Linked DNA regions of Homo sapiens. The protein of the gene in region 3 purifies or fractionates together with the protein of the main gene of each other region. This does not show direct contact. Each region holds a gene or a part of one and is shown on either strand. Other genes may lie near its edges. The genes, in order: EIPR1, DCAF7, CCT3, HDAC3, WDR70, DCAF13 and TUBAL3.

Evidence for each region.
Region 1: the proteins of CCT3 (region 3) and EIPR1 purify together in Homo sapiens (affinity purification with mass spectrometry; 3 studies listed by BioGRID and IntAct, with this or other methods). This does not show direct contact.
Region 2: the proteins of CCT3 (region 3) and DCAF7 purify together in Homo sapiens (affinity purification with mass spectrometry; 5 studies listed by BioGRID and IntAct, with this or other methods). This does not show direct contact.
Region 4: the proteins of CCT3 (region 3) and HDAC3 purify together in Homo sapiens (affinity purification with mass spectrometry; 3 studies listed by BioGRID and IntAct, with this or other methods). This does not show direct contact.
Region 5: the proteins of CCT3 (region 3) and WDR70 purify together in Homo sapiens (co-immunoprecipitation; 3 studies listed by BioGRID and IntAct, with this or other methods). This does not show direct contact.
Region 6: the proteins of CCT3 (region 3) and DCAF13 purify together in Homo sapiens (co-immunoprecipitation; 3 studies listed by BioGRID and IntAct, with this or other methods). This does not show direct contact.
Region 7: the proteins of CCT3 (region 3) and TUBAL3 purify together in Homo sapiens (affinity purification with mass spectrometry; 3 studies listed by BioGRID and IntAct, with this or other methods). This does not show direct contact.

Annotation. Positions count from the first base shown.
Region 1 is NC_000002.12:3,188,058-3,191,093, reverse strand, and holds the end of EIPR1 (EARP and GARP complex-interacting protein 1), read left to right. Parts: intron 1-1,585; coding exon 1,586-1,760; 3' UTR 1,761-2,124; downstream 2,125-3,036. UniProt on the Homo sapiens protein: Acts as a component of endosomal retrieval machinery that is involved in protein transport from early endosomes to either recycling endosomes or the trans-Golgi network.
Region 2 is NC_000017.11:63,581,178-63,585,538, reverse strand, and holds part of DCAF7 (DDB1- and CUL4-associated factor 7), read right to left. Parts: intron 2,038-4,361; coding exon 1,828-2,037; intron 329-1,827; coding exon 211-328; intron 1-210. UniProt on the Homo sapiens protein: Involved in craniofacial development. Acts upstream of the EDN1 pathway and is required for formation of the upper jaw equivalent, the palatoquadrate. The activity required for EDN1 pathway function differs between the first and second arches.
Region 3 is NC_000001.11:156,331,793-156,335,292, forward strand, and holds part of CCT3 (T-complex protein 1 subunit gamma), read right to left. Parts: intron 3,127-3,500; coding exon 3,076-3,126; intron 2,984-3,075; coding exon 2,921-2,983; intron 1,852-2,920; coding exon 1,755-1,851; intron 1-1,754. UniProt on the Homo sapiens protein: Component of the chaperonin-containing T-complex (TRiC), a molecular chaperone complex that assists the folding of actin, tubulin and other proteins upon ATP hydrolysis.
Region 4 is NC_000005.10:141,620,068-141,624,163, forward strand, and holds the end of HDAC3 (histone deacetylase 3), read right to left. Parts: intron 1,471-4,096; coding exon 1,401-1,470; 3' UTR 814-1,400; downstream 1-813. UniProt on the Homo sapiens protein: Histone deacetylase that catalyzes the deacetylation of lysine residues on the N-terminal part of the core histones (H2A, H2B, H3 and H4), and some other non-histone substrates.
Region 5 is NC_000005.10:37,381,805-37,386,165, forward strand, and holds part of WDR70 (WD repeat-containing protein 70), read left to right. Parts: intron 1-4,361.
Region 6 is NC_000008.11:103,421,561-103,425,921, reverse strand, and holds part of DCAF13 (DDB1- and CUL4-associated factor 13), read right to left. Parts: intron 1-4,361. UniProt on the Homo sapiens protein: Part of the small subunit (SSU) processome, first precursor of the small eukaryotic ribosomal subunit.
Region 7 is NC_000010.11:5,401,477-5,406,608, forward strand, and holds the start of TUBAL3 (tubulin alpha chain-like 3), read right to left. Parts: upstream 3,353-5,132; 5' UTR 3,317-3,352; coding exon 3,314-3,316; intron 1-3,313. UniProt on the Homo sapiens protein: Tubulin is the major constituent of microtubules, a cylinder consisting of laterally associated linear protofilaments composed of alpha- and beta-tubulin heterodimers.

The DNA.
Region 1 (3,036 bases), on a different chromosome or scaffold from region 3:
ACAAAAACAAACAAAAAAGTCACCCAAGCTGGTGTGCAGTGGCACGATCATGGCTCACTGCAGCCTTGACCTCCTGGGCTCAGGTGATCCTCTCACCTCAGCCTCTCAAGTAGCTGAGACAACAGGCCCATGGCACCATGTCTGGCTAACTTTTTGTAGAGACAGAGTTTTGCCATGTTGCCCAAGCTGGTCTCAAACTCCTGAGCTCAAGTGATCTGCCCACTTCAGCCTCCCAAAGTGCTAGGATTACAGGCATGAGCCAGACTCTGTTGTTTTTCTGTTCAAACCTTAGAAACTCGGTCTGCCATAGAATAGTATTTAAGCACACGCACGGTAGCATCTGCCCAGTGGTCTCTCGGTGCCTGTGGGCCTGGCTCCCTTTACCGTCCTCTCTGCCAGTGGCCCAGGGAGTCTGCACTTCCTCACCATGTCTGTCCCTGTTAGGGGAGGAGCCTGATGGGCCCGTTGGTCGGAAGACTGCTGGCGTTGTCTTCTGGGCGGCAATGTCATGGGAGCAAGATAGGAAGGGAGGAGGTGATCGGGGCTACGCAGACTTCTTAGGACATCCCTCAGTCCTGATGTCCTGCTGCATTCAGGAAACCATGATTCCTCCTAAGGATTTGCACCTGGCATTTGTCCCACAACAGCAGTTGACCACTGGCAGGTCCACTTTGTGGGAAGCCAGCTTCCCAGAGACCATGCGAGTTCTGGAGGGTCCGTCTTGCTGGGGGGGTGAAGCATTTTCCTACAAAGAAATGCAAAAGCAGTTAGAATGCGGTACACAAATTATGTGGGAATTTTTTTGTGAAATGGGAAGTAAAGTGCCAGAGAAGCCTGTGTCCACCGGAAAGTGGCCGCTGTGAGCCGGGCAGGGCCCCCTCCCCATGCACGCTGTGCTGAGGAAGTGGTGCTTCTTGTGTGAGGATCCCCTGGTCAGGGCTCCCAGTGAGGGTAACTCACAGTCAAGGGAGGCGAGGTGGGAAACACCCTGGGGGAGGCCAGGCAGGTCACGCCTCTGCTGCTCCCACAGGGCCAGGGCGTCTTCCTCTTGGTGTCCTGGGGGATCCTCAGCCCAGCCCCACTCCCATCCTAGCAAGGCTCCTTGTGCCCCAGCCTCTGACTCCTACACAGCCAGGAGCTGGACCCGCTGCTTCCCAGGGTCCTTTCTGCTCAAGCAATAGGGGCGTTTACATCCTGTGTTACCCAGACACGGTGACTACTTCCCCCAGTCTTTCCCCTGAGCTAAAGGAAGCCCTTGGAAGACCTCCAACAAAATATCAACCCAGGCACCCGGGGGCCAAGGACAGAAGAAACCAAGACACCATGTGCCAATGTCGCCGATTTCCATAAACCTTTTGAGAAATGCCCACTCCTCACAGTGACAGTGAGGGTTTCTGGGCTTCTGCAGGGACCACCCCACCGTCCTCGGTGTGGGCTCCTCTAATTCTTCCCATCCCACAGCGGAGAAAGCTGAGGCCCCAGTACCTCCCGTGTCTCCCGATGTCAGCGCTCGCGTCCTCCCTGCCCCTCTCCTGCCCGCCCCGCCGGAGCTGCTGCGCTCACGTCTGCCTCTGTTGCATTGCAGGAGCAAGGAGCCCCTGCAGGACAACGTGATCGCCACCTACGAGGAGCACGAGGACAGCGTCTATGCCGTGGACTGGTCCTCGGCTGACCCGTGGCTGTTTGCCTCCCTGAGCTATGACGGGAGGCTCGTGATCAACAGGGTGCCCAGGGCCCTGAAGTACCACATCCTGCTATGACTCCCGGGCCTGGGTTATCCAGGTCCCATTGAGTGGTTTTCCTCTTGGCAGATTCTCAAACAGTCGCAGCTCTTTGGAGGTGACTCGTGTTCCAGGTGGATCCCTCTCTGGGAGAGCCGCTGTTCCCTTCCTGTAGCAGCAGCATTTATGAATGGGGTGAATGGGGCTATTGTCGACGGCACAGCTAATGCCCGAACCCAGCCCCTGTCGGCAGAGACAGAGCCCCACATTATTATGTGAATAACAATGTTTTCTGTTTTAAGGGTGTCAGGAGTTTCGCTTTTTAAAAAAATGTCTGTTCCTGCAATAGTAACTCTTCTTTCTCTTGAGAGTAAAAAATGAAATAAAATAAATCCACGCTGCACAGGTGCTCGGCTCATTCTTTCAGGAGCTCTGCCCTGTGACCCCATCTCCTGGGTCTTTGTCCATTTTCTCTTTCCTGACCCAGGGAAAATGCAGATGGACAGACGTGTGCTGTCTACGCCGCCCTAGCATGGAACTCCCGGGAGCCATGCTGGCTGCTGGTGGGCACCTGGCTCGCGCCCTGGGCTGAGCTGGTGTGATGCATTTTCACTGCTGTAGACGCAGGCTCTGCCCGCCCTGGGCCTCCCCTGGTCTCTGCAGCCCATCCTGTGCTGTGTCCTGCCCACCTTGTGAGCCGGGCAGGGCCTCCTCCCCACGCGCACGCACTGGTGGCCTTGGAGGTGCCGTCCTCCCTCACCTCGGAGCTTGGGGTTGGGCTCCCGCGTCTCAGTTGTCGGGGACCCCTCACAGGCTCCTACACTCATCAGTGCTTATCCTTAGGAATCCTCAAACACTGACCTCGCAGCCTCTGTTCGTGGTTCCTTTGGGTGTGCGGGGTCTGTTCTCTGTGTCTGGTGCGTGTTCCCACTGGAGAAGCCACCTGGGCCCTGGACTCTGGGCTCCATCTCCCTTAGGCCTCCACCTGGCCAGGTGTCCCCGCAGGGGCCACTTCTGCGCTCTGCTGCCCCGATCACCTCATCTGTAATGATGGGGAAGGATGGGCTGAGCTCACAGGCCCATCAGCTCTGGGGTTTGACGATTCTAGGACAAGTCTTGCCCGACCTGCAAAAAGGACACGTTCCTGCTGCAGCGCCCCCGCCAGTAGGTGTACCGTGCTGCTAAGGACGCTCTGCACCCAGAGGGCCGCATCCTGGATTTTCCTTTCATAGATGAGAGTTCACAGCGAAGTGGAGGCCATAGGGGGAGAGGTGAAAAGGTGGGGTCCTGGGCGAGGGGACAAGTATGGGGGGGT
Region 2 (4,361 bases), on a different chromosome or scaffold from region 3:
ATGGAAGATGTTCTGATGTCCATGAGGGTACAAGATCGTCTAAAAATTTGTACTGATTGAATTTCACAAGTGTGGAGAGGCTCCAACTAGTCATTTTGTATAAATCTCTCAAGACTGTGCTTAGAAAACAGTAACAACTACAATTCTAAGGAGCCAAGAGAACAGATTTCCTCCATCCTTCCCAGATTTCTTTCTCCCCACCATGATTACCTGCAGTGCAGATGTGGCAGGATGAATGTGGGGCCCAAGCAATGCCATTGACACATGCTCGATGGTTGTTTAACCTGGCGACAGGTGTGCAGGGAACCCGGACATCTAGAATCACCACCTGCGGAAATAACAAGTAAAAGGCCTGGGATCATCAGAGTTTCATAGAAAAAAACAAAAAATACTATCCACATGCAAAAATCTTTTTAGGCATAATTTTTCATTTGTGGATTTAAAGAACTAGAGACAGGATTTCCATAGGATTGAGGGAAAAGAAGACAAAGGACACGGGTAGTTGATAGTCTCTATCTTGAGCAACACTGGGCCTTTAGACTGATAGGGGAGATGCAGAAACAGACAACAGGAGTCTGGGTAATCCTGGGTCCCAGCAGGTGCATGTGGTAAGAATTCTATGCATCTCAGATGAATGGAATGAGAGCCCAGCCAAAGCAGAATCTGAGGTGCTAGCGCCACCAAACCAAGGACAACCAATGCATTCTCCCCACCCACAATTCACCTCTTTAATCAAGTAACAGACTAGAGAGAGCTGCCATTTGTTTTTCTTTTTTTTTGAGACAGAGCATGCCCTGTCACCAGGCTGGAGTGCAGTGGCATGATCTCCGCTCACTGCAAGCTCCGCTTCCCAGGTTCAAGCTATTCTCCTGCCTCAGCCTCCCGAGTAGCTGGGACTACAGGTGCCTGACACCACGCCCGGCTAATTTTTTGTATTTTTTTAGCAGAGACGGGGTTTCACCGTGTTAGCTAGGATGGTCTTGATCTCCTGACCTGTGATCCGCCCACCTTGGCCTCCCAAAGTGCTGGGATTACAGGTGTGAGCCACCGTGCCTGGCCTTTTTTTTTTTTCAGATGGAGTCTTGCTCTATCTCCCAGGCTTGAGTGCAATGGCACGATCTTGGCTCACTGCAACCTCTGCCTACCAGGTTCAAACAATTCTCTTGCCTCAGCCTCCCGAATAGCTGGAACTACAGGCGTATGCCACCACACCCAGCTAATTTTTGTATTTTTAGTAGAGACGAGGTTTCGCCATGTTGGCCAGGATGGTCTCCATCTCTTGACCTCGTGATCCACCTGCCTCAGCCTCCCAAAGTGTTGGGATTACAGGCGTGACCCAGAGCGCCCGGCCAGAGGGCTGCCATTTCTACATCTGTTTGCTAAAGCTAGATGAATCTGTCCAGACTACAGAAGGGAAAATCTGCTTTTTCACTCAGCACCATAGGCACATACGATTTGGTTTACTCTTTAGATATTGCTTTTCCTGGCTCTAACTCCAACTCTTCAAAAATTAAAAGTTCTTAACAAGTAATTCTTATTCCAGATTAGGCTTTCTCAGTCCCGGGACTGCTGTCATTTTAGGTAGGATATACTTTGCTGGGGGACTGTCCTGGGCACTGTAGGATATTTAGCAGCCTCCCTGGTCTCTACCCCCTAGATGCCATAGTACCAACTGCGTCTCTAGAGCTGTGACAATCAAAAATGCCTCCAGACATTCCCAAAGATACTCCGGGAGCCAAACTGCTCCAGTTGAGAACCAGCCTTCTAGATATACTAAGCAGTGCTGGAGTTAGGCAGGGCCCATGGTAGCCTGAGAGGAGTGCTCACCTCCATTCCATCCATGGCCATGGTGGCCAGGTAGTTAGGGTCCTGCTTGTTCCAGCAGAGGCGAAGCAGTGGGTGATGCTGTGGGTCTTCGTAAATGATGGTGCTGTGTTCTAGATGGCGGAGGTCAAACATCCGCACCGAGCCATCAGCACCCACAGAGGCAAACATGTCCCTGCCACCCCCGGCCCGGCTAAATGCAATATCATAGACCTGTTGGTGAACAAGAAGCTCCAGTCAGATTCAGATCCATTACCTCTTCTTCCTATAGGAGGGAAATCTGCCACGTCCAGTTCATCTAAACCTCGCTCATGACACAAAAGCAGATAAATGAAGCCCAAACAGTGTCTGTGAGTACTGAAACCCGAGAGCTCTAATATCAGTGGCTTCCCAAAGATGGAAGATCATTCTGCTATAGAAATTGGCTGGCTTCTTCCCACATTCCTGCTTTCCAAGTCTTCTTCCTCCAACCCGTGATAAAACAAAGGCACATGCCCTGCTGACCAACAGAACAGTGGCTGTCTTCTGCCACACAACAAGAATGAGACACTTATTTCCTGGGCCTTGTGCACAATCAGAGGCAGGTCTACGAGCTCATTAAGGCCTAGATCATCAATCACAGAGGTGAAAGCAGCCCTCCTGTGGCCACTTAATAGCAGCCAAGCTGATTCTGTGAAACCTGGACCTGAGACTCATTTGCAAGAAAGAGGTAACAGAAATTTTGAGTCACGGGAGGCCTAGATGTTCCTGTATTCACAAATAGGTTAGTAGCACCCGCTTGTCCTAGGACATGTTTTTTCTTCTCCTAGTTGGTTTGAGATCATAAGTGAATCAATTTAGGTTCTGAATCACTGTTTTCTGCTTTTATTTGCTGCAAACATTGCATATCACTAACGTCTATGAGGAAACAGAGGCAGAGAGCAACGGAGAGCTTCAGAGAAAGGACGAAGGCCGGGTGCGGATTACACCTGTAATCCCAGCACTTTGGGAGGCTGAGGCGGGCGGATCACAAGGTCAAGAGATCAAGACCATCCGGGCCAACCCAGTGAAACCCCATCTCTACTAAAAATACAAAAAAATTAGCTGAGTGTGGTGTCTGGTGCCGGTAATCCCAGCTACATGGGAGGCTAAGGCAGGAGAATCGCTTGAACCCGGGAGGCGGAGATTACAGTGAGCTGAGATCAGGCCATTGCACTCCAGCCTGGGACAGAGCGAAACTCTGTCTTAAAGAAAAAAAAAAAAAGAGGACGAAGAGGGACGAAGAGAGAGCCAGAGACAGACAAATAGAGAGAGAAACAGAAAAACTAATGCCAAACAAAACTCATCTTCTGGGGATAATAACAGCTGACTTCTGGGGAGACACGACTAGAATTTCTCACTAAATATTACAGCTCCAGTGTTGAAGTTCTGCCTACAGAGGGGCACTGCCAAATGAGCATCTATTGCTATTTAACCTCACGAATTCCTTTTTTTTCTGGCTATGAAGAAATTATGCTTGTCTTTCTATGGCAGGAAGTAGAAGTGGTTCAAAAGGGACCGGGCCAGTCATCAACAAGGAGGCACTCAGGCCTGACGTGCCTGACAGATCGAGGCTTTCTCTAGTACTGTACAGCTGCTTTAAGGCACAGCCATGTTTATCAATATGTATACCCCCCAATGACAGCTCCTGGTAACCCTCAGGGACAGAGATCCCACAGGTGCCATGGGCAGCGTGGCTGAGTGTGTAATGCTCTCTCGGCTCTAAGTGACTGCTCCTTCAGTGCTCCGCTAGCATGGTTCACTGGGAAACCAAGGGAAGGTGACAACTCCCAAGTACACTAAACCCTCTTCTACACTGATCTGCCAGGTATCAATGAGAGCCTTCCAAACAAGTCTTTTCCTAGAGAAAGGTGGACTGAGAAAAATCAAAGGTGCTAGAAAGGTGCTATTACTGTTTCTCTAGAGCCACTATCCTTTCTCAGGTTTATTCCTTCAAGACAAGGCTGCCGGTCCAGGCCTGTCTGCTGTCAAGATCCATTCCTGGCCTTTCTCCCTGCTCTTCTTCTCTGTGTCACAAGAGAACTGATTCCTACAGCGTGCATTTGGCAGGGTCTCAGATCTGCTGGCTGCTTCTGGCTGGTTCAGCCATGGGAGGCTTTGGTGGGAAAATGGATGATGGGAGGCAGGGAAAAGCTAAGGTATTTCTCCTCCCCTCTCTCTGTTCCTAGAAGCGTCTCTGCCAGGTAAATCCAGCCCCTGGGCTCCAGGAACCCTGCCTCCTCCCATGGTCCCTCTGGCCTATAGGCAGCTGCAGCTTCCTGCTGCTCCCATTCTATGGATGACCTCACTGCTACCTATGTGGCTTCTCAGCTTTACCATCTTCTGTATAAGCAGCCCCTGGATTAAATCCCTGCAGTTCAAATACTTAAGAGTAGTTCCCATTTTCTGGGTTGGACCTAACAGACAACAGCAGGCTAAGTTGTCATATAACTAAAATGTAGCCGCTTGTTCAACTTGATGCCAAGAGGGTTTCCAGAAGTTCCTTACTGGTCCTCTCT
Region 3 (3,500 bases):
GGAGGCAGAGGCGGGCAGATCACCTGAGGTCGGGAGTTCGACACCAGCCTGACCAACATGAAGAAACGCCGTCTCTACTAAAAATACAAATTAGCCAGGCATGGTGGCCCATGCCTGTAATCCCAGCTACTTGGAAGGCTAAGGCAGGAGAATCGCTCGAACCCGAGAGGGGGAGGTTGCGGCGAGCCGAGATTGTGCCATTGCACTCCAGCCTGGGCAACAAGAGTGAGACTCCATCTCAAAAAAAAAAAGAGACATGGTCTTGCTTTGTTGCCCAGGTTGGAGTGCAGTGGCACAAACACGGCTCACTGCAGCCTCAACCTCCTGCCTCACCGACCTCAGCCTCCCCAGTAGCTGGGACTACAGGTGTGTGCCACCACATCCAGCCGATTTTTATTTTTTACAGTGACGCGGTCTCTCCATGTTGCCCAGGCTGGTCTCGAACTCCTGACCTCGTGATCTGCCCACCTTGGCCTCCCAAAGTGCTGGGATTACAGGTGTCAGCCACCACACTTGGTTGCAATCAGATTTTTTAAAACCAGTGTTTCTAGTATAAAAATTTTACTATCATCTTGACATTTACACAATAAAGGCAATAGGCCAAGATTTGAAAAATAATTCTTTATGATCCTATAGGAAGTAGAAAGATTAGTCTTTAAACTTACATAGCCCAGGGTCATTATCCTAAAGATTTCATTTCTTATTATTTGTAACCCCAAAATCAACATTCATGACACTTTCATAGTCATTCATGGAAATTCACAGAATGGCAAAAAATTTGAGTCACCCAATGACATTCCTAGGTGAGGTTAAACAAGGCCTTTAGCTCTCACACTGTAAAAAAAAGTGTCCTTTATGCAGTATATTTAAGGTTATGTTTTTCACATTTTTCTTGATGATTTCGGTATTTATAATGGCTCACAAGTGTAGTGCTTAAGTGCTAGCTAATGCTTCTATGTGCAAGAAGGCTGTGATGTGCCTTACAGAGAAAATACGTTAGGTGAGCTTTGTCCAGGCATGAGTTATATTGCTATGGGCTATGAGTTCAATGCTAATAAATCAACTATATATATTAAATGGGTGTCTTGAAGACAAACACATACAATAAGGTATATATTTATCAGTTGATGAAAGTGTGACCAGAGGCTTATAGGTATCTAACCCTGTATTTCCTATAGAAGCAATGATTTATTATTTGCCAATTCAGTGTTTGTGGTGACTTTATAGGCGTGGTGGCTCACGCCTGTAATCCCAGCACTTTGGGAGGCCAAGGAGGGCGGATCACGAGGTTAAGAGATCGAGACCATCTGGCCAACATGGTGAAACCCTGTCTCTACTAAAAATACAAAAATTAGCTGGGCGTGGTGGCACGTGACTATAGTCCCAGCTACTTGGGAGGCTGAGGCAGGAGAATCGCTTGAACCTGGGAGGCAGAGGTTGCAGTGAGCCAAGATCGCACCACCACACTCCAGCATGGTGACAGAGTGAGACTCTGTCTCAAAAAAAAAAAAAAAAAAGAATATTATAACTTACAGTGAATAAAGAGAATTAACTATTAGTTTATCAGCCAGATTTGCATAGCTCACCCTATTCATATAAATGTTTTATACCCAACTGGAGAGAATACATAGAAAATAACCAATAAGCTATTTAAATATCTGTAATTAGTGGATCTGTAACAGAATTTCCTTCTTAAAATATGACACAGGTGTTACTTCTAATTTTTCCTTATCAACCTCTTATTCTCCTCTTACCAAGAATAATTACTGATGTGGTCCCATCTCCAACCTCTTCATCCTGGGTCCGGCTAATTTCGATCATGGACTTGGCCGCTGGATGCTGGACTTGAATCTAAAAAGGTAGATCACTAGTGAATTCACACTATTCAAAGACCTCTGAACTCATGAAGCTTGGCCCTAACTCTTGGGCTTCTTGCTTCTATACGTACTTACTTTCCCTTTAATGTTTTACCATATCTTGAAAGATTAAAATTGGCACCCCAAATAGCTTAAGTAAACCACTTTCCAAATCCTTTTTGGGAAAAAGTGTATTACATGAACTCAACTATTAAAGCTGCCAGAGGACAGAACGATATCTTTTAGCTTATTTACTGGAAGCACTATTGTGGCTGAATTGTGTTCTTCAGTAAGATACGTTGAAGCCAGCTGGGCATGGTGGCTCACATCTGTAATCTCAGCACTTTGGGAGGCGGAGGCAGGTGGATCGCCTGAGGTCAGGAGTTCGAGACCAGCCTGGCCAACATGGGGAAACCCTGTCTCTACTAAAAGTACAAAAATTAAGCCGGGTGTGGTGGCATGCGCTTGTAATTCCAGCTAATCAGGAGGCTGAGGCAGAAGAATTGCTTGAACCCATGAGGCGGAGGCTGCAGTGAGCCGAGATCACATCACTGTACTCCAGCCTGGGTGACAAGAGCGAGACTCCGTCTCAAAAAAAAAAAAAAAAAAGATATGTTGAAGTCATAACTCCCAGAACCTGTGAATTTTACTTTATTTTAAAATAGGGTTTTTGCAGATGTAACCAAGTTAGATAAGGTCATTCTGAATTAGGGTGGGCTCGAAGACCAATCACCGGTGTCCTTGTGTAAGAGACACACAAGGGGAATAACATGAAGACCAAGGCAGAGACCAAGTTCATGCCAAAGAAAGCCAGCAACCATCAGAAGGGAGAAGCGGAGTTCTTCCCTAGAGACTTCAGAAGGAGCATGGCCCTACTGACGCCTTTATTTCAGACTTCTAGCTTCATTCTATAAGATAATAAATTTCTGTTGTTGAAGCCAACCAGTTTCTGGTAATCTGTTATAGCAGCCCTAAAAAACTAATCAGAGCCTGTATCTTAACAGGTCCTTTATGTTTACAGAACTGTCAGAAAGCAAAAAAACAAAACCAAAAACAAAACACACCTCTCGAAGAATGGCATTGCCATCATTGGTCATCACAATGCCTCCCATTGGGTCCAAAAGCATCTAAGATGAAAGCAAAAGTTATATTTAAAGTGTCCTAGATAACAGGAAGAAAAAAATTGTAGCCTAAGAGTTTTAGGAAGAGATAAGCCTACCTTCATCATGGACTTGGGTCCCAAACATGTTCGGATGATATCTGCAATAGTCTAATGGAAAGGGAACATAAAATACGCAAGCACAAATCAGAGGACAGTGTGAGAAATGTTGGAGTAATAGGGAAAAGGGGCATGAACAACCCACAGAGTCAGTGTTTTATTTTATTTTAATTTTATTTTATTTTTAGATATGGGGTCTCACCATGTTGCTCGGGCTGGTCTCAAACCCCTGGGCCCAAGTGATCCACCTGCCTCAGCCTCCCAAAGTGTTGGGATTAGAGGCGTGAGCCATTCCGCCCAGCCAGAGTCAGTGTTTTTAATGACACCCCTAAAGCATGGTTAGCCATCACTTTAGACATAGCATGCCACTTTAGATATAGGATGTGGCTAGCTCTGTTGTTTTTCTCCCCTTGGGAATGCTTTCA
Region 4 (4,096 bases), on a different chromosome or scaffold from region 3:
AGCTAGCAAGATTTCAAGCATAAGTTCCTGAAGGGCAGAGTCAGTGACTTACTTACTCTAGAGCCCCAGTACCTAGTCAAGGGCCTGAGATATACCAGGGACTCTGCCAAGCTGGCTGGCTCCTAAATTTGGCATTCATCTCTCTTGTGGTCCAGACCTTCTGATGGTGATCGGATAGAATGTTACATAGAGCTGTCCATCCCATACTTCAAACTTGACTTAGTGCTGAGCTTTCCAGACATTTTGTCTAAAAAGTCCAAAAGCTACTTTCTAAGCTAGTGTTGAGAACAGACAGAATCAGAGAATGGAGGGGAGGAAGTGACCCATCTATCAGTCCTCTTTCTTGTATCAGTCTGTATCTGCTACAATATTTATCATACTACTGACTGGAATGTAAACTCTTCTAGAGAAAGGTTCATGTTTGTGGCTACTACAGTATTTAGCATTGTTCTTCACATAGACAGATAATGGGCAACTTCTTCTGTCAGGCACTGTGCTAAGCACTTAACATGTTTTATCTCAGTGTATCTTCACCAACTAGCATCACTACTCTAAACACCCAGATTCAAAAACCTGAAGTCATCTTCTACTCCTCTCAAATCTGCCCAGGTTTGTCTAACTCTTAACCAAAATCCTCTATTAACTTCTTATATTTACAATAATAAATGTAGAATACATACACAGGGCCTAACGTAGGATAAGTGCTGAATGAATGTTAACTATGCTTTTATTACATGCATCATCATGCCCATTTCCCTCTCCTTTCATAAATAGGAAACTAGCAAGAATTAACATTCCTAGAAAGGCGAAAGGTACAAAAAATACCGACTTAGTTTATTGGATAAAAACAGTGGTAAAATGGACATAAAGCCAAAAGTGAGAACAGAACATTTTCATATCCTCCCCACACTTGAAAACATACTTCCCATCATCTGGGATTCAGGTGTTAGGGAGCCAGAGCCCCTTCCAAATCTCTCTCTCTTCATCTTCCCTGGAAGCAAGGGGAGGAAGAAGTCAGAACCCAGGGGAGGAGGAAGTCAGAGGCAATCTCAGTCCTTGTCTACCCGTTCATCCCTCAAAAATCTCTGGGTTCGAGGGAAGCAGGGAAGAAATAAGGGGCAAGGGGGGCTAGGGACTGGCCTCCAGGGCCCACTGCCAATAATGTCCCAGATAGCTATCCTTGTCTGTATCTCATCCCTAATAGGTACCATTGTCAGGCCTTGGGAGAGAGAGGAAAAGCAGGTAGATGGTTCGAGAACCAAATGTGGTCTCCAGACTCTTTCCCAGAGTCAGCAAAAGCCCTGGGGTGACCCCCAGGACTCTAGGAGCCACTCCTTTTCCCTCCAGCCCAACCAAGAGGTGAAAAGAAATTCCTTGGGACACAGCATCCCAAGCCACTCTTAAATCTCCACATCGCTTTCCTTGTCATTGTCATGGTCTCCATCATAGAACTCATTGGGTGCCTCTGGCCTGCAAAGCAAGGGGAGAGAGGTCAGGATCTCACTCTAAGTTCTAATCTTCTCCCAGCACCCTTTTCCAAAGCCATTTCTCAGGCCCCGTTGAGAACCACTCCTCCTCTTGTTGGTAGAGACTGCTATTCATTCACCCATTCACGTATCAAATAAACATTAAGGAACTACTCTATACAGACACTGTCATAAACCTTAGCAATACAGTAGAGTAACAAGCTGGACAAGGTTGTCTATCCTCAAAAAGCTTACCTAATAAATGAGACTAGTAACTAACAAAGTAAATAAATATAATAATTTCAGATGATGGAGAGTACAATTAATAAAATGAAGTGATAGGACTGAAGGTGATGAGAGGAAAAGGGTGAAATTTCAGACAGGACTATTGGGACATAAGACCTAAAGTCTGAGGAGGAGCTAAGCAGGCAAAGACTTCAGGAAGGCCATTCCAAGCTGCAAGAAAACCAACTACAGAGGTCATGAAATGGAAAGAGACTGATGTATTCCAGTAAGAACAAGGAGGCCAGGACAGCCGGGAGCACTGTGCATGGAGGAGAGTAGTTAGAGATGAGATCCTGGATGTAGGTAAGGGCTAGCATGCAGGACCTTTTTAAGCCACAGTCAAAATTTTGGATTTTCTTCTAAGTGCAAGGTAAAGGAGAGTTTTAATTTTAAGAAGAGTGACGTGGTATTATAAACCCATAGTGAAAGAATGGATGTGAAAGCAAAACAGGGCCCAACAGGTACTCAATATTGGTTTCTTTCTTTTTGAAAAAGTATTCTCAAAAGCCGGGCGTGGTAGCTCACACCTGTAATCCCAGCACTTTGGGAGGCCAAGGCAGGTGGATCACAAGGTCAAGAGATCAAGACCATCCTGGCCAACATGGTGAAACCCCGTCTCTACTAAAAATACTAAAGTTAGCCGGGTGTGGTGGCACATGCCTGTAATCTCAGCTACTGAGGAGGCTGAGGCAGGAGAATCGCTTGAACCTGGGAGGCGGAGGTTGCAGTGAGCCGGGATTAGCCACTGCACTCCAGCCTGGCAACAGAGTGAGACTCCATCTCAAAAAAAAAAAAGAAAGAAAAGAAAAAGTATTCTCTGGGACACAGAGAATTGAGAAAGTCATCAAAGAGAAGCTGAGGCACTAAGCCAGGAAAGGCCTTATCTGCATGGTGAGCAATGTCTCAGTTACTTCTAAGTGCACAGGGTTAAAGGTGTGGAGTCAGAGAATCAGGTTGAATCTCAGCCCTGATCTTTAACTAGCCATGTGACCTTCAGAAAGTTACTTAAGTCTCGCCGGGGGCGGTGGCTCACACCTGTAGCCTGTAATCCTAGCACTTTGGGAGGCCGAGGCAGGCAGATCACCTGAGGTCAGGAGTTCGAGACCAGCCTGACTAACATGGAGAAACCCCATCTCTTCTAAAAATACAAAAAAAATTAGCCAGGCGTGGAGGCTCATGCCTGTAATCCAGCTACTTGGGAGGCTAAGGCAGGAGAATCGCTTGAACCCGGGAGGCAGAGGTTGTGGTGAGCTGAGATCATGCCATTGCACTCCAGCCTGGGCAAAAAGAGCGAAACTCCGTCTCAAAAAAAAGAAAGAAAGAAAGTTACTTAGACTCTCTGAGCCTTAGATTCCTCCCGTGTTAATCTGAAAATAAGAGCCATCAGAGTTGTCTGATGGCAACAGAATGATCATATATATGTTGTAATAGATAGCACTTAGTAGTGTCTGGTGCTTGGCAAACCTACAAAAAGTGGTAACTCTTCCTATTTCTACTCTGCAAGTCATATGCAAGCTGGAGCTATAGGCATCAAAGAAGAACAGAAACTCAGTGGGTGGCCTGACAGAGAGGTAGGGCTTAGGAACAGGAAGAGGCCTGAGGCTTCTGCTGGCTGTGACAGGGCTTGGTATTATTATAATGCAGAGACTAGGTCCAGATGCCAGCCTGGAGCTATTGATAAAAAACCCAAAAGGAAGAACTTAAAAACAGGTTTTACCAAACCAAACCAGACAATGAAAAGCAATTTCCAATAGTCCTGGAAGCCCTGAAGCCAGACACTTCCAGATGTTCAGACACTTCCTCACTCAGAAGGGATCGGGGGATATCCTTGGAGGAAGAGAGTTGCAGAGATCCCCAAGAGTCAGAGCAGTAAAGCCCAGGTCCAGAGGAGAGATTCGGAGGCCTGAATTCTAAGACAGAAGCAGATTCTAGAAGGGGCTGAGAAGCCCATCAGGCTCTGCAGCAGAGCCGGCTCAAACCTCTAACCCTGCGTGGGAGCAAGACAGCGTGTCCCACAAGTGTCCAGCTGTGGTTATCCCTCAGTCATGTAAGGAAATCTGTTCCCCATTAAGTGCATCTGTTTCTGCACTTCTTGGTTCTGTTGTCTTTCCCTTTCATTTTTCAGCAAAGTTTTGGGATTAAAAAAAAATTCCATCCTATCCTTTTTCCCCCCTAATTCATTCCATCTACAAATATTTTGTATGTATCTCAGAAAGATAAAGACTTTTAAAAAAAAAAAAAAAACATAACCACAATGCAATTATCCCACCCGAAAAAATTAACAGAGCAAAGAAATCAAAGAGCCTTAGAGAGTATTACGCAGGCAGTGACCTGTCCAGCTCAAG
Region 5 (4,361 bases), on a different chromosome or scaffold from region 3:
GCACTTAGGGAGGCCAAGGCGGGCAGATCACCTGAGGTCAGAAGTTTGAGACCAGCCTGGCCAACATGGTGAAACCCCATCTCAACTAAAAATACAATAATTAGCTGGGCATGGTGCAGGGGCCTGTAATCCCAGCTAGTCGTGAGGCTGAGGCAGTGGCTTCAGTTGAAGTCGGGAGGCAGAGGTTGCAGTGAGCTGATATACCCCCATTGCACTCCAGCTTGGGGGACAAGAGTGAAATTCCATCTCAGAGAACAAAGAGAGAAAAGAATGTTGTTATGCTACTTATCACTGTTGTTTTTTTTTTTTTTTGAGATGGAGTCTCGCCCTGTTGCCCAGGCTGGAGTGCAATGGCATGATCTCGGCTCACTGCAGCCTCCACCTCCCCGGTTCAAGCGATTCTCCTGCCTCTGCCTCCCGAGTAGCTGGGACTATAGGCACATGCCACCACGCCCAGCTAATTTTTTGTATTTTTAGTAGAGATGGGGTTTCACTGTGTTGGCCAGGCTAGTTTCGAACTCCTGACCTTGTGATCTGCCTACCTTGGCCTCCCAAAGTGCTGGGATTACAGACGTGAACCACTGTGCCCCGCTTTTTGTTTTTTTGTTTTGTTTTGTTTTGTTTTTGAGATGGAGTCTCGCTTTATTGCTGGGCTGGAGTGCAGGGGTGCGATCTTAGCTCACTGCAACTTCTACCTCCCCGGTTCAAGCAATTTTCCTGCCTCAGCCCCCCAGGTAGCTGGGACTACAGGTGTACGCCACCACGCCCAGCTAATTTTTGTATTTTTAGTAGAGATGGGGTTTCACCATGTTAGCCAGGATGGTCTTGATCTCTTGATCTTGTGATCTGCCTGCCTCCTAAAGTGCTGGGATTACAGGTGTGAGCCACCGCACCCGGCCCAATTTATCATTTTAAGACCAACAATGGGCCAGGTGTAATGGCTCATGCCTGTAATCCCAGCACTTTGGGAGGCTGAGGCAGGTGAATCACGTAAGGTCAGGAGTTCGTGACCAGCCTGGCCAACATGGTGAAACCCCGTCTTGACTGAAAATAGAAAAACTATCTGGGTGTGGTGTTGGGCCCCTGTAATCCCAGCTAGTAGGGAGGGTGAGGCAGGAGAATCGCTTGAACCTGGGAGGCAGAGGTTGTGGTGAGCTGAGATCGCACCATTGCACTCCAGCCTGGGCGACAAAAGCAAAACTCCATCTCAAAATAAAAAAAATAAAATAAAATAAAATGGGCGACAAGAGCAAAACTCCATCTTAAAATAAAATAAGATAAAATAAAATATAAAATATAAAACAAAATAACTAAAATAAAAAATAAAACGTTGTACAGCAGCAATATCCAGTATTTGGCAGTGTGCCTGACAAAAAATATTTTCAGTCTTTGGAAGAAAACTTTTTGTGGTGAAAAGAAAGCCATCTACATGTACTATTTTTTGAAAAAAACCTTTCATTATTTGTTTTATTTGAGACGGAGGCCTGCTCTGTCGCCCAGGCTGGAGTGCAATGGCGTGATCTCAGCTCACTGTGACCTCCGCCTCTTGGGTTCAAGTGATTCTCTTGCCTCAGCCTCCTGAGTAGCTGGGATTACAGGTGACCACCACCACGCCTGGCTAATTTTTTTGTATTTTTAGTGGAGACGGGGTTTCGCCATGTTGGCCAGGCTGGTCTCGGACTTGTGACCTCAGGTGATCCGCCCGCCTCGGCCTCCCAAAGTGCTGGGATTACAGGTGTGAACCACTGTGCCAGGCCAAAACCCATCATTATTATTATTATTGTTATTTTTTTGAGATGGCGTCTCGCTCTGTCGCCCTGGCTGGAGTGCAGTGGTGCGATCTTGGCTCACTGCAAGCTCCGCCTCCCGGGTTCATGCCATTCTCCCGCCTCAGGCTCTGGAGTAGCTGGGACTACAGGTGCCTGCCAACACGCCTGGCTAATTTTGTTTTTGTGTTTTTAGTAGAGATGGGGTTTCACCGTGTTAGGCAGGATGGTCTCGATCTCCTGACCTCGTGATCCACTCGCCTTGGCCTCCCAAAGTGCTGGGATTACAGGTGTGAGCCACTGCACCCAGCAAAACCCTTCATTATTATGTGAAATTTCAAACACGGAAGTATAGTCATGAACTACCATGTACCTATCAATCAGATTTAACTACTGTAACAGTTCATGGCTAGCATTACTTCGTTTCCCCTTTCAGATGATTTCGAAGCAAATCTTGGACATCATTTTACTCATAAATATTTTTGTATATACCTTAAAACGATAAGGATTGTTTTAAAAAAAGCTTAACCAAGATACCTGTAAGAGATAGGAAAAACCAAGTTGTTTCCTATCCTCTAGCACTCCTCTCAGTACTTTCCCCCCTTTTTTTTTTTTTTTTTTTTTATTTGAGACAGGGTCTCACTGCTGTTGCTTAGACAGGTGTGCAGTGGCATGACCTTGCCTCACTGCAGACTCCACTTCCCAGGCTCAGGTAATCCTGCCACCTCAGCCTCCCAAATAGTTGGGACTATAGGTTGGTGCTACCACACCCCACTAATTTTTTGTATTTTTAGTTGAGATAGATTTCACCATGTTGGCCAGGCGCAGTGGATCACGCCTGTAATCCCAGCACTTTGGGAGGGGCGGATCACGAGGTCAGGAGATTGAGACCATCCTGGCTAACATGGTGAAACCCTGTCTCTACTAAAAATACAAAAAATTAGCTGGGCGTGGTGGCGGGCGCCTGTAGTCCCAGCTATTTGGGAGGCTGAGGCAGGAGAATGGCGTGAACCCTGGAGGCAGAGCTTGCAGTGAGCCGAGATCTTGCCACTGCACTCCAGCCTGGGCGACAGAGTGAGACTCTTGTCTCAAAAAAAAAAAAAAAAAAAAAAAAAAATTTCACCATGTTGTCCAGGCCAGTCTTGAATTCCTGGGCTCAAGTGATCCACCTGTCTTGGCCTTCCAAAGTGCTAGGATTACAGGTGTGAACCAGTACTTTATTTCTGACACCAGATATGTAGGAGTTTTCCCCCACACATCAACCAGTTCTCCAACTGGGTATCCGGTAACTCAGTTTAATTCTGACACCGTCTGCCTGGAGACTACCACAAGACTGCCTTCACTCAGACACTAATCTCAATTCACAGGTTGTGACCAGTGCTTCTAATCTACTGGCTATAAATCAGGGTTCCCATGACCGCTCTTTTTGGTTTGATAATTAGCTAGGACGGCTCACAGGGAAACACTTTACTTGCGTTTAACAGTTTATTATAAAGAATATTATAAATGATACAGATGAACAGCCAGATGAAGTAATGCACTGGGCAAGGTATGGGGTGGGAGAGGTGCAGAGCTTCTGTGCCCTCTCTGGGTGCACCAACTCCCCAGCATACCCCTGTGTTCAGCTACCCTGAAGCTAATCACATCTAGTGGTTCAGGAGTGTCTAGGCTGGGTGCAGTGGCTCACACCTATAATCCCAGCACTTTGGGGGACCAAGGTAGGAGGATCACTTGAGCCCAGGAGTTTGAGATAAACCTGGGCTAACACAGTGAGATCCCATTCAAAAAATCTTACAAAAATTAGCTGGGCATGGTGGTGCACACCTGTAGTCCCAACTACTTGGGAGGCTGAGGTGAGAGGGTCAGTTGAGCCCAGTGGTTGAGGCTGCAGTGAGCTATGATCATGCCACTGCATCACAGCCTGAGTAAAAAAGCGAGAGCCTGTCTCAAAAAAAAAAAAAAAAAAAAAAAAATTTCTACAGATCTTAATTTTCAGCTTCTCCAGAGATTGGTGGGTGGGGATGAAAGTTCCAATTATCTAACCCATCAGTTTTTTAAGTGAGCAGCAGTCCCATCCTGAGGCCTAGGGGTCCAGCACTAAGTCACTTCAATAGCATAAACTTAGGTGGGATCCAAAGGGGCTTCTAATGAATAACAAGAGACAGCTCCTATCACTTAGGAAATTCCAAGGGTTTCAGAAGCTCTGTGGCAGGAACCTGAAACAAAGACCAAATATATATATATATTTTTTGAGACAGAGTCTTGCTCTGTCGCCCAGACTGGAGTGCAGTGGTGCGATCTCGACTCACTGCAAGCTCCGCCTCCCGGGTTCACGCCATTCTCCTGCCTCAGCCTCCTGAGTAGCTGGGACTATAGGTACCGGACACCATGCCTGGCTAATTTTTTTTTTTTTTTTGTATTTTTAGTAGAGACAGGGTTTCACCCTGTTAGCCAGGATGGTCTCGATCTCCTGCCCTCATGATCCGCCCCCCTCAGCCTCCCAAAGTCCTGGGATTACAGGAGTGAGCCACTGCACCTGGCCAAATATATTTCATATTATACCACAATATCATCACATCAAAAAACAATTTTAAT
Region 6 (4,361 bases), on a different chromosome or scaffold from region 3:
CCATTTATATCCCACCTTGTTTTAGTAAAGATTTGTGACAAATACATAAAGTACATAAAACTAAAAATATAATGAGTAGAGCAAAAGAAAAACAAGAACAGGGGCAAAGTTAGGTCATGCATATTGTGATAAACATGGCATTTCAACTTGGAGAAAAAATGGATTATAAAAAATGGTATTATAATATCTGGTTAGTCATTCAAAAAAATTGAGCCAATTTGATGCCTTATGTGAAAATAAAATTCCAGGTAATTTTAAATGTAAAAAATAAAATGAAAAACATGAAAATACTGGAGAGAAGGCATTGTTATAATATTGAAATAGATAAAGTCCTTTTCTGCATGAACTGCAGAAACTACTAAGTCAGTGGTTTTCAAACTGTGAACTTTGGGCCTCTGGAGGACCCTGAGAACTTTTCAGGGTCCACACAGTCAAAACTATTTTCATAATGTTAGTAAAGACATAGTTTGTCTTTTCACTGTGCTGACAGCTGCACAAATAGTAAAAAAGCAACAGTGAGCAAAACTGTTGGCACGTTAGCCCAAATCAAGGCAAAGCAACAAACTATGGTAATTTAGACATGGGTATTTGGCAGACATGTTTAAGCTATCAGGTGAAACAGACTACAAAACAGAACATATAATGTAGTTTGAGGTTGAAAACAAAATCATAAATGTGGTACTGTATAACTGCATACATACAAAACTGCTAGTTTTAACTTAAAATCTTACATTTATATATTAGATGCAATCTATATCCACTTTTTGATAAAATCATTAACAAAGATATCTTTATCTAAGGGAAGAGTATGAATGTAGCTCTTTTCTTACAGCAAATTCAAAAAGGAAAACGCTTCTTGCAAAACAGTTTACAGTGCCCATGAGATGAAAACAGATAAGTGATCAGGAAAGGTTTTGGTACTAAGATTACACAGCGATGTCTTTTGTTGAGGATGTCGATGAACAGAATCCTTAACTACATCCTTGTTATAGACAAAAAGTATTTAATAGGGCTACATCTTATTAACAACTATGAATCTGAGCCACTGGCACTATACTAAAACTCAATTCTAGAAACCTGATTCTACTGGGAGACTAAGATGTAATCTAGGTACCAGGTCTTGACTGATCTGGCTTGACCCAAAGAGACATTTTAGCACTTACAGAATACAGGATAAACTGTGTCCCTGAGCACCCCGTTCCTGAAGACGCTATCCCTCCATCAAGTTTCTGATAGTGTCTGCAAGCTCAAGACTGAATTTGCTTGTAAATGACCAAGCTGTTCTGCCGTCTACTGAGTACAAACCTCAGCGGACCACCAATTCTGGGAAGGGTTTTCTCATTTTATAGAAATGAGTAGCCGAACAAGAATATGTGCCTGGCTAGAACATCTCATCTCCAGGCTGGTTATGCTGAAGAAGGAATTGTTGGTATTACAAACTGGTATATCTTAGTGAAGTTTTAGGTAATAAAAGTTTATGTTTTGCAACACTGTGTACTAAAATTTTTAAAAACATTCTTAAAGTTGTACCAGCAAGTAGTCTTCACATGTGTCTTATCTCTGACAAAGCACACATTACTCAAAAATATCTTTTTGGTTGGGCATGGCGGCTCGCGCCTGTAATCCCAGCACTTTCAGAGGCTGAGGCGGGTGGATCACTAGGTCAGGAGATCGAGACCATCATGGCTAACACGGTGAAACCCTGTCTCTACTAAAAATAAAAATAAATAAAAAAATTAGCCGGGAGTGGTGGTGGGCACCTGTAGTCCCAGCTACTGGGGAGACTGAGGCAAGAGAATGGCGTGAACCCGGGAGGCAGAGCTTGCAGTGAGCAGAGATCATGCCACTGCACTCCAACCTGGGCGACAGAGGGAGACTTCATCTCAAAAAAAAAAAAATCTTTTTGAAAAACCGAGAAACAATAAGGTGGGCATGGTGACTCATGCCTGTAATCCCAACACTTTTTGGGAGGCTGAGACAGGCTTGAGCCCAGGAGTTCAACATCGGCCTGGGCAACGTAGCAAGACTCTGTCTCTTTAAAAAAATAAAGTGGGGGGAAATAAGTGGTGAATATGAAACATTTTCAGTCTTTATTCATTTCTTAAAATGTTTTTTATTTAATTTACAAATAAAAGATATATATTTATGATGTACAACATTGTGTTTTGATACACGTAGACACTGTGGAATGGATAAACCAAGCTAATTAACATATCTGTTACCTCACATACTTATTATTTTGTGGTGAGAACATTTAATTCACTTTCATAGCAATTGTCAAGAGAGCATGTTGTTATTAACTATAATCACAGTGTTGTACAACATCCATCCCATCTATTTGAAATTTTGTCTCTTTTGACCAACATCTCCCCAATCTCCCTCCCTCAAAGCCCCTAGTAATGACCATTTTACTCCATTTCTAAGAGTTTGGCTTTTTTAGATTCCACACAACTGAGATCATGTGGTATCTGTCTTATTTAACTTAGCATCATGTCCTCCAGGTTCATTCATGTATGCTGCAAGTGACAGGATTTCCTTCTTTCTGAAGGCTGAATAGTATTCCTGTGTGCGTGTGTGTGTGTACTTTTTTTTTTAAAATTCATTCATCCATTGCTGGACACTTTAGGTTGATTCCATATCCTGGGTATTGTGAATAATGCTGCAAATGAGCCTTTATTCATTTTAAGCATTAAAAAAAAATACACTAAGTCCTCTGGCTGAGCTATTAATCAATATATCCAAGAGAATAACCAAGTGTAAGAAGCCTTAGGTGCCATCCATTCCCACTTGCCAATCAATTCCTTGCACAACACTGGGCTTGCAGGGTCAGGCAGCTTATCTGCACCCCTCTAGTGAAAAGTAACTGAATGCTTTGCAAGGTAGCCTATTCTGCTTTTTGACAGCAAATAAGTTTTTTTTTTTTACACCAAAACCGAATCTTTTAACACTAACACCTATTTCCAGTGCCTCTCTATGGAGCAACAAATTAGTCTATTTTCTTTTTCACATGACAATCTTTCAAATTGTAGCTATCAGGTTTCCCAGAAGTCATCTTTTCCCTTTATTATTCTCTTGCAATCTAGCTTCTGCACCCAGCCAACCTGGATTGCAACCTACATTTTATAACTCAGCTCAACCTGTTTTTTAAAAAGTCACCAGTAAATAAAGAATAAGGAAGATCTATTTGACTGATTAGCGCATGTGTATACAAAAACTGTTGTATAGGTAGGTCAAAACACTTGAAAAGACATACACCAAACTAATAGTGTTAGAAGTGAAAGACTAGAATTATGCAATCTTTAATTTTCTATTTTTTACATCTCTACATTTCTAAAATGTTTTCCTCAGTCTTCATTTTTCATTATTCTTTGTAGTAGTTCACAAAACTGACTATTCCTTCCTCCTAGGACACTATGCTCATTCACAGATTCTTTGAGCTCTGGCTACTCCTAGAGTTTTCCCACTTCCCAGAGGTGGGCATTCCCCAAGGCTACTTCCTTGACATCTTTGTATTTCTATATTTTCCTCCTCATTTCCTCCCAATGATGCCATACTATGGCTTCAATGATTAGTTCTATATTGATGATGTCAAGTTCAGCTCTGACCTCCCTCCTGAGCTCCAGACCTGCATCTGTAAAGGTATGACAGACATCTTCACTCGAACAGCCCATTAGCAGTCCAGTTTGTCACATCATATCCTTCCCATTGCCACCCTTCAAAACTTGCTGGTACTCCTCAGCAACAGGAACCAACCTCTTCCCAGGCACCTCTCAGTTGTCAAACCTGTCAATCCTCCAAAGTATCAACCACTGATTTCTAGTTTTCAGTCTCCATAATAAGGTAGCCTCTTATTATTGCCTGCCAAACTATTAAAATGGCCTTCAAACTGATCACTAACTGCTGTCAAATTACTTAACTCAAAGCACAGCTCAGATTTTGTCGTTCCCCTTGTTTAAAAAGACTTTCAATGAACTTGAATTGGTATTTGTACACCAATGGTCACGGCAACACTATTCACAATAGCCAAAAGGTGGAAACAAATCAAATGCTCATTGATGAATGAACGGATAAACAAAATGTGACACATACAATGGAATGTTATTTAGCCATAAAAAGAAAGGAAATTCTGACATGTACTACAACATGGATAAACCTTGAAGACAATTATGTTAAGTAAAATAAGCCAGACCCAAAAGCCTTATTCCACATACACAAAATGGTATAATTCTTTAAAATATGCTTCTATTTATATGAGGTACCCAGAATAGTCAAAATCACAGAGGCAAAAAGTAAAATAGTAGTTACCAGGGGTTGGGGACTGAGGGGACAGAGGAGTTATTGTTTAATGACTATAGTTTCAG
Region 7 (5,132 bases), on a different chromosome or scaffold from region 3:
GGGCTTGTCTAGAAATAAAATTAGCTAGTTATTGGAAAGAAATAAAACTAAAATCAATATATAGCCTTGTCAAGTACTAAAACTCATCGCAGATAAATTTAAAATGTTATCTTTACCATTCATATGCACTCTGAATAAGGATGGATATACTAAACTTAAAACTAGTGGGAAATTTTACAAGGCAAAATGCAATAGATTTAACAGTTCCAAAATGTAAAAGTTTTATAACAAACATATAGAGATAAAAATTGATTTTATATACATCAACTTTCTAAAAAAAAACACTTAAGACATCCACTAGCTAGGCAAATGATATAAACAAACAAATTACAAAAGAAAGACTCTAAAATGCAAGGATGTAGGCTGATGGCATTCACAAGCATCACAATTCATAAGCATGAAAACCAAAAACCAATCTATTTAATCTAACCATTTATATATTGTTGAGCATTTAAAGGATGTTACATCAACACAATGACATGTTATGCAACCCTTAAACGTTTTCCCAAAAAAAAAAGATTTATGACATGGGAAATGCTTATGATAACATATTAAGTAAAAAGCACATAAGATGCATGATTGCATATAGAGTATGATGTCCAATATGTTCAAAAATAGGCATAAAAATCTAAAAGAAAATGCATCAAGATATTAAGTTTAGTAATATCTGGGTAGTGATTTTATTTTCTTGTCTAAACTTTACTATTTCTTCCACCTTCATATTCCCCCATCCCACTTTAAATCATCTTTTTTTTAAGGCAAACAACTATTCTGTTAAACAGACAATGATCTACGTTTTTAAGAGAAGGAAAGAAAAAAAATGAGAAGGAAAGTAAAAGCTAAATTCTAAGAAATCTGAGGTGATAGCAATCGCTGTTCTTAATATTGGTGTGGTTTGATTGACTGTGGTGCTGAAACAAATCTATTTAGAGGGTCTTGTAGAATGAGACCCCCATGTCTTCTGCATCATCAGGACCCTTTGGGCTGTTTGACCAGATAAGCTGAGGGGAGCCCTGCCCTTGTTCATGGCTACACTGCCCTAAAGCCTGAGATTCAACTACTGAAAGACCTCAGGCCTCCTGTCAATCCCTCACCTGTGGTCTACACAGGGGTCCCCAACCCCCGGGCCACAGACCAGTACCAGTCTGTGCCCTGTTAGGAACTGGGCTTTACAGAAGGAGGTGAGCAGCAGGTGAGTGAGCATTACTGACTGAGCTCTGCCTCCTGTCGGATCAGCGGCAGCATTAGATTCTCATAGGGGCACTAACCCTATTGTGAACTGCGCATGCAAGGGATCTAGGTTGTGTGCTCCTTATGAGAATCTAACTAATGCCTGACGATCTGAGGTGGAACAGTTTCATCCAGAAACCATCCCCACTGCCGACTCCATGGAAAAATTGTGTCCCACAAAACTGGTTCCTGGTGCCAAAAAGTTGAGGACCACTGGTCTACACAGACCACTAGTCAGAGGAAAGTAAGGAGAGGGCTCTGGTCGGCCACACCCCTGCAATCTGACTTGGACTCTGTTCATGCTCAATGGCATCAAACCTTTGTACTTTGTCTCTGTGATTCACAAGGCATAACAGCCCTCTGCTTCATGACCAATTCAAGTTCACTACCTTAGTAGGGCTTCCATCTTGTTTATTTTCTGTGCAACTATCAGTCTCTCTAATTTAGAAAGCACTTCATTTAGGACAAACTAATATTCCACCTCTCAAGACAGCATATTCTGTTATAAACAGGCTTCGAATACCCCTTATCAGGCTTCAGATAACCTTAATCTTATTCCTCTCCCCTTCTGTCGGACTTAAAGTGCTGCAAATACATCAGCTGCTGTAATCTGATCAAAACTTGGCTCCTTAAATTTAAGTTAACATTTTAAAAGGAGAGGGTGAACGTTCATTGTTTCTACATCATTAAAACCTCTTACTTTGTAAAGTTTACATGTAGATTTCTCTGTCTTCTCCACTGGCTACCACCCAGTCCTGTGTTACAGTGACGAGTAAAATTCAGGTGTACATGTGGTATTTGTTCATAATAGTCACAGTAAAAATAATCACTAACATTAAAAAAAAAAAAGATTGTTCCTCTTCACGTGGTCTGTTCAAGTGACTCAGAAAGCAGAGTGATGCTGTTCTTTTTGAAATCAGCACGAATAGCCTGGACTAACAAGCATCCTTCGTCTTTGAAGGAGCTTAGCTTATAACATAACTCTGTCCAAGGGTGTAGAAGACTATCTTTGCCTTATTCTTCTCTTAGCCTCTCCCTTTTTTTCCAAATTCTCTATGAAAATATTAGTCACACTATAAAGTAGAAGACTATAAAATGTCCACTGAACGTCAACACTGATAAGTCATAGCACATTATTAAACGCTGCTATAAGGATTATTTGAATTACTAGAAAAGCATAACTCTCAGTTAAACTTTCAATTTTGAGGTCTTTGTAGATTGATATGCAGCTGTGAGAAATAACATAGGAAGATCCCTTGCATCCGTTACCCATTTCCCGCAGTGGAAACATCTTGCAAGACCATAATACAAAATCACACCCAGAATGTTGACAGTGATAAGATACAGAACATGCTATTATCACAAGTCTCTCTCATGTTGAAAGGCATAATTTTTAAAAGCAAAACAATTTAAAATTTTTTAAATGTTGGACAGAGAGACCAATGGGGTGAGAAATCAAAGATCAAGAAGCAGTTCGAAATGTTGCTTCCATTGAAGAATTAAAAATTCAAAGATACTGAAAAACTGGCACAGAAAAAAATAAAGGGCAAATGGATCTGAAAAGGTCATCCCAAAACAGAATTATTGTAAGTTATTCTATTCATTGTGGTGCCCAAAGAACTAAACTCAAGGGAGGGCAAAGAAGATGTCTGCGCACTTTACCCTGCCAGGCATTTATGAGGTTAGCCACGGTTACCTAAGTCTGAAGTCCTCAGAAACTCTTAACAGCCTAACGAAAAGTGAAGCAATGAATATCTACAGAAAAATCAGCACTCTGGGCCTAAAACAAAGGTGAAAACTAAAGGAAGGAAAGGTTTTTGCTTCAGTGCTTCAATTAATGGCAGTGAGCTACTGCAAATCAACTGAGCTTTACCTTGAAAGAAGCAACATTACAGAGGAATAGATTACAGCCTGTCCACATCTGCTCCCAACTCATCTACTTGGACATTGAAAGAAACAAATGTTTCTTTACAAATGTCTTCTCTTGCATTACAATTTTATTAAGAATTGTTTGCTGTGGGAAAAGGGCCAAATATGATTAGTAAAATTTCCTACAACAATGCATAGGCGTGTAGTCACTTACCATGCTGATGAGAACGTGCCCTTCCTGCCCTGTAGTAATGACTGAGGAGCCTCCCAGCTGAGCTTTATCACAGGGCCCGGAAATGACTCCACCTGAGGGCTGGAGCTTTCTTCACTTAAAGCAGTATAGCTTCTTTTTAGTTTTTTTAGTTATCTGGTCTCAGAGTAGCTGTGTTGGGCCTGAACAACCCGGGATAAAGTTTGTACACAGCTGCAGATGAACTACTGAGAGCTTATCCAAATCTGCGTCCAACTTATAACTATGTTGAAAAGAACATGTGTCTTTTAAAAATCACCCTTTTGGGTTAAGAATTTATTTAGCATTGGCAGAGAAAAGGAAGGAGTATGAGTAAAATTTTCTGCAACAGCAAAGTAGCTTTTTCTATTGCATGAGTACTATGTGAATATCTTCTTAAATAAATTTAAACAATCCCTGAATACATACAGCAAACCAAGACAGTGTCCTTTTTACATCTGTGTCCTATGCATGCCTCTCAACCACTACCACATCCAAACATATGGGAATTTTCTGTTTTTATTATTATTGTCTTTTGAACTTTTATATTATTATACATAATATATACTTATGTTATTATTTTTTATTAATTGCACTAAGATCAGATCACACATCTTAACTGAGTTCTCTCCTTATATATTTGCTAAAGCTTCCTTTATATTCTACTATATGGTCAATTTTTGAAAATATTCCATGAGTGTTGAAAAGAATGTGCATTCTACATTTGTTGGATGCAATATTTTAGATAGACCGATCATTCAATCAATCAATCTATTAAATCAAATGGATTTATTGTGTAGTCCAAATTTTACGTATCAATTATTTCAAAAGATGTATTAAAAGTTTTCATTATAATTGTGAATTTACCCATTATTTCTTTTTCTGTCAATTTTTCCTTTATACATTTTGAGGCCATGTTATGAAGAGCACATAAATTTTAAATTATTATATTTTCAAAAACTTTAACAATTTTTTATTTTTAAATTACCCTCCTTATATACATTAATTATTTTTACCTTAAAGTTTTTTTTTTTTTTTTTTTGAGATGCAGTCTTGCTCTGTCGTCCAGGTTGGAGTGCAATGGTGCGATCTCAACTCACTGCAACCTCCACCTCCCAGGTTCAAGCGATTCTTCTGCCTCAGCCTCTCAAGTAGCTGGGATTACAGGTGTGTGCCACTATTCCTAGCTAATTTTTTTGTATTTTTGATAGAGACAGGGTTTCACCATGTTGGCCAGGCTGGTCTTGATCTCCTGACCTCGTGATCTGCCCGCCTTGGCCTACCTTAAAGTTTTTATGATCAAATATTAATATTACTACTTTAATACAGTTTTTTGGTTCACATTTGAATGATGTATTTTCCCATCGTTTTACATTCTTAGAAACTTAAAACCTTTCCATATTCTCATATTTTGGATGTGTTCTTTGTATGCATGATATAACTGAATTTTTTTTCTATTTTTGTATTTGAATTGGAGAATTCAGCTCATTACATTTAATATAATAACTAATATAGTTGGGTTTAGATATAGAGTACTATTTTATTTTGTGCTTTCTGTTTGTCTCCATTTTCTAAGTTCTCTTTTCTTCCTGATCTTCTTTTGAATTAATGACATGTTTTGTTAGCATAGTAACAATTTTATTATTCAGTAATCAAAACAAAATTTCTGTTACTCAAGAATCTTGGTTTCTACCAATTCTTCCTTACAACTTTGAGAAAATGAAGAAACCATAGTGTTCTTCAGCAATTTTCTCCTGAACTTATTATAAATTATACTTTCTCTCATTTTGATCTTCATAAAGTC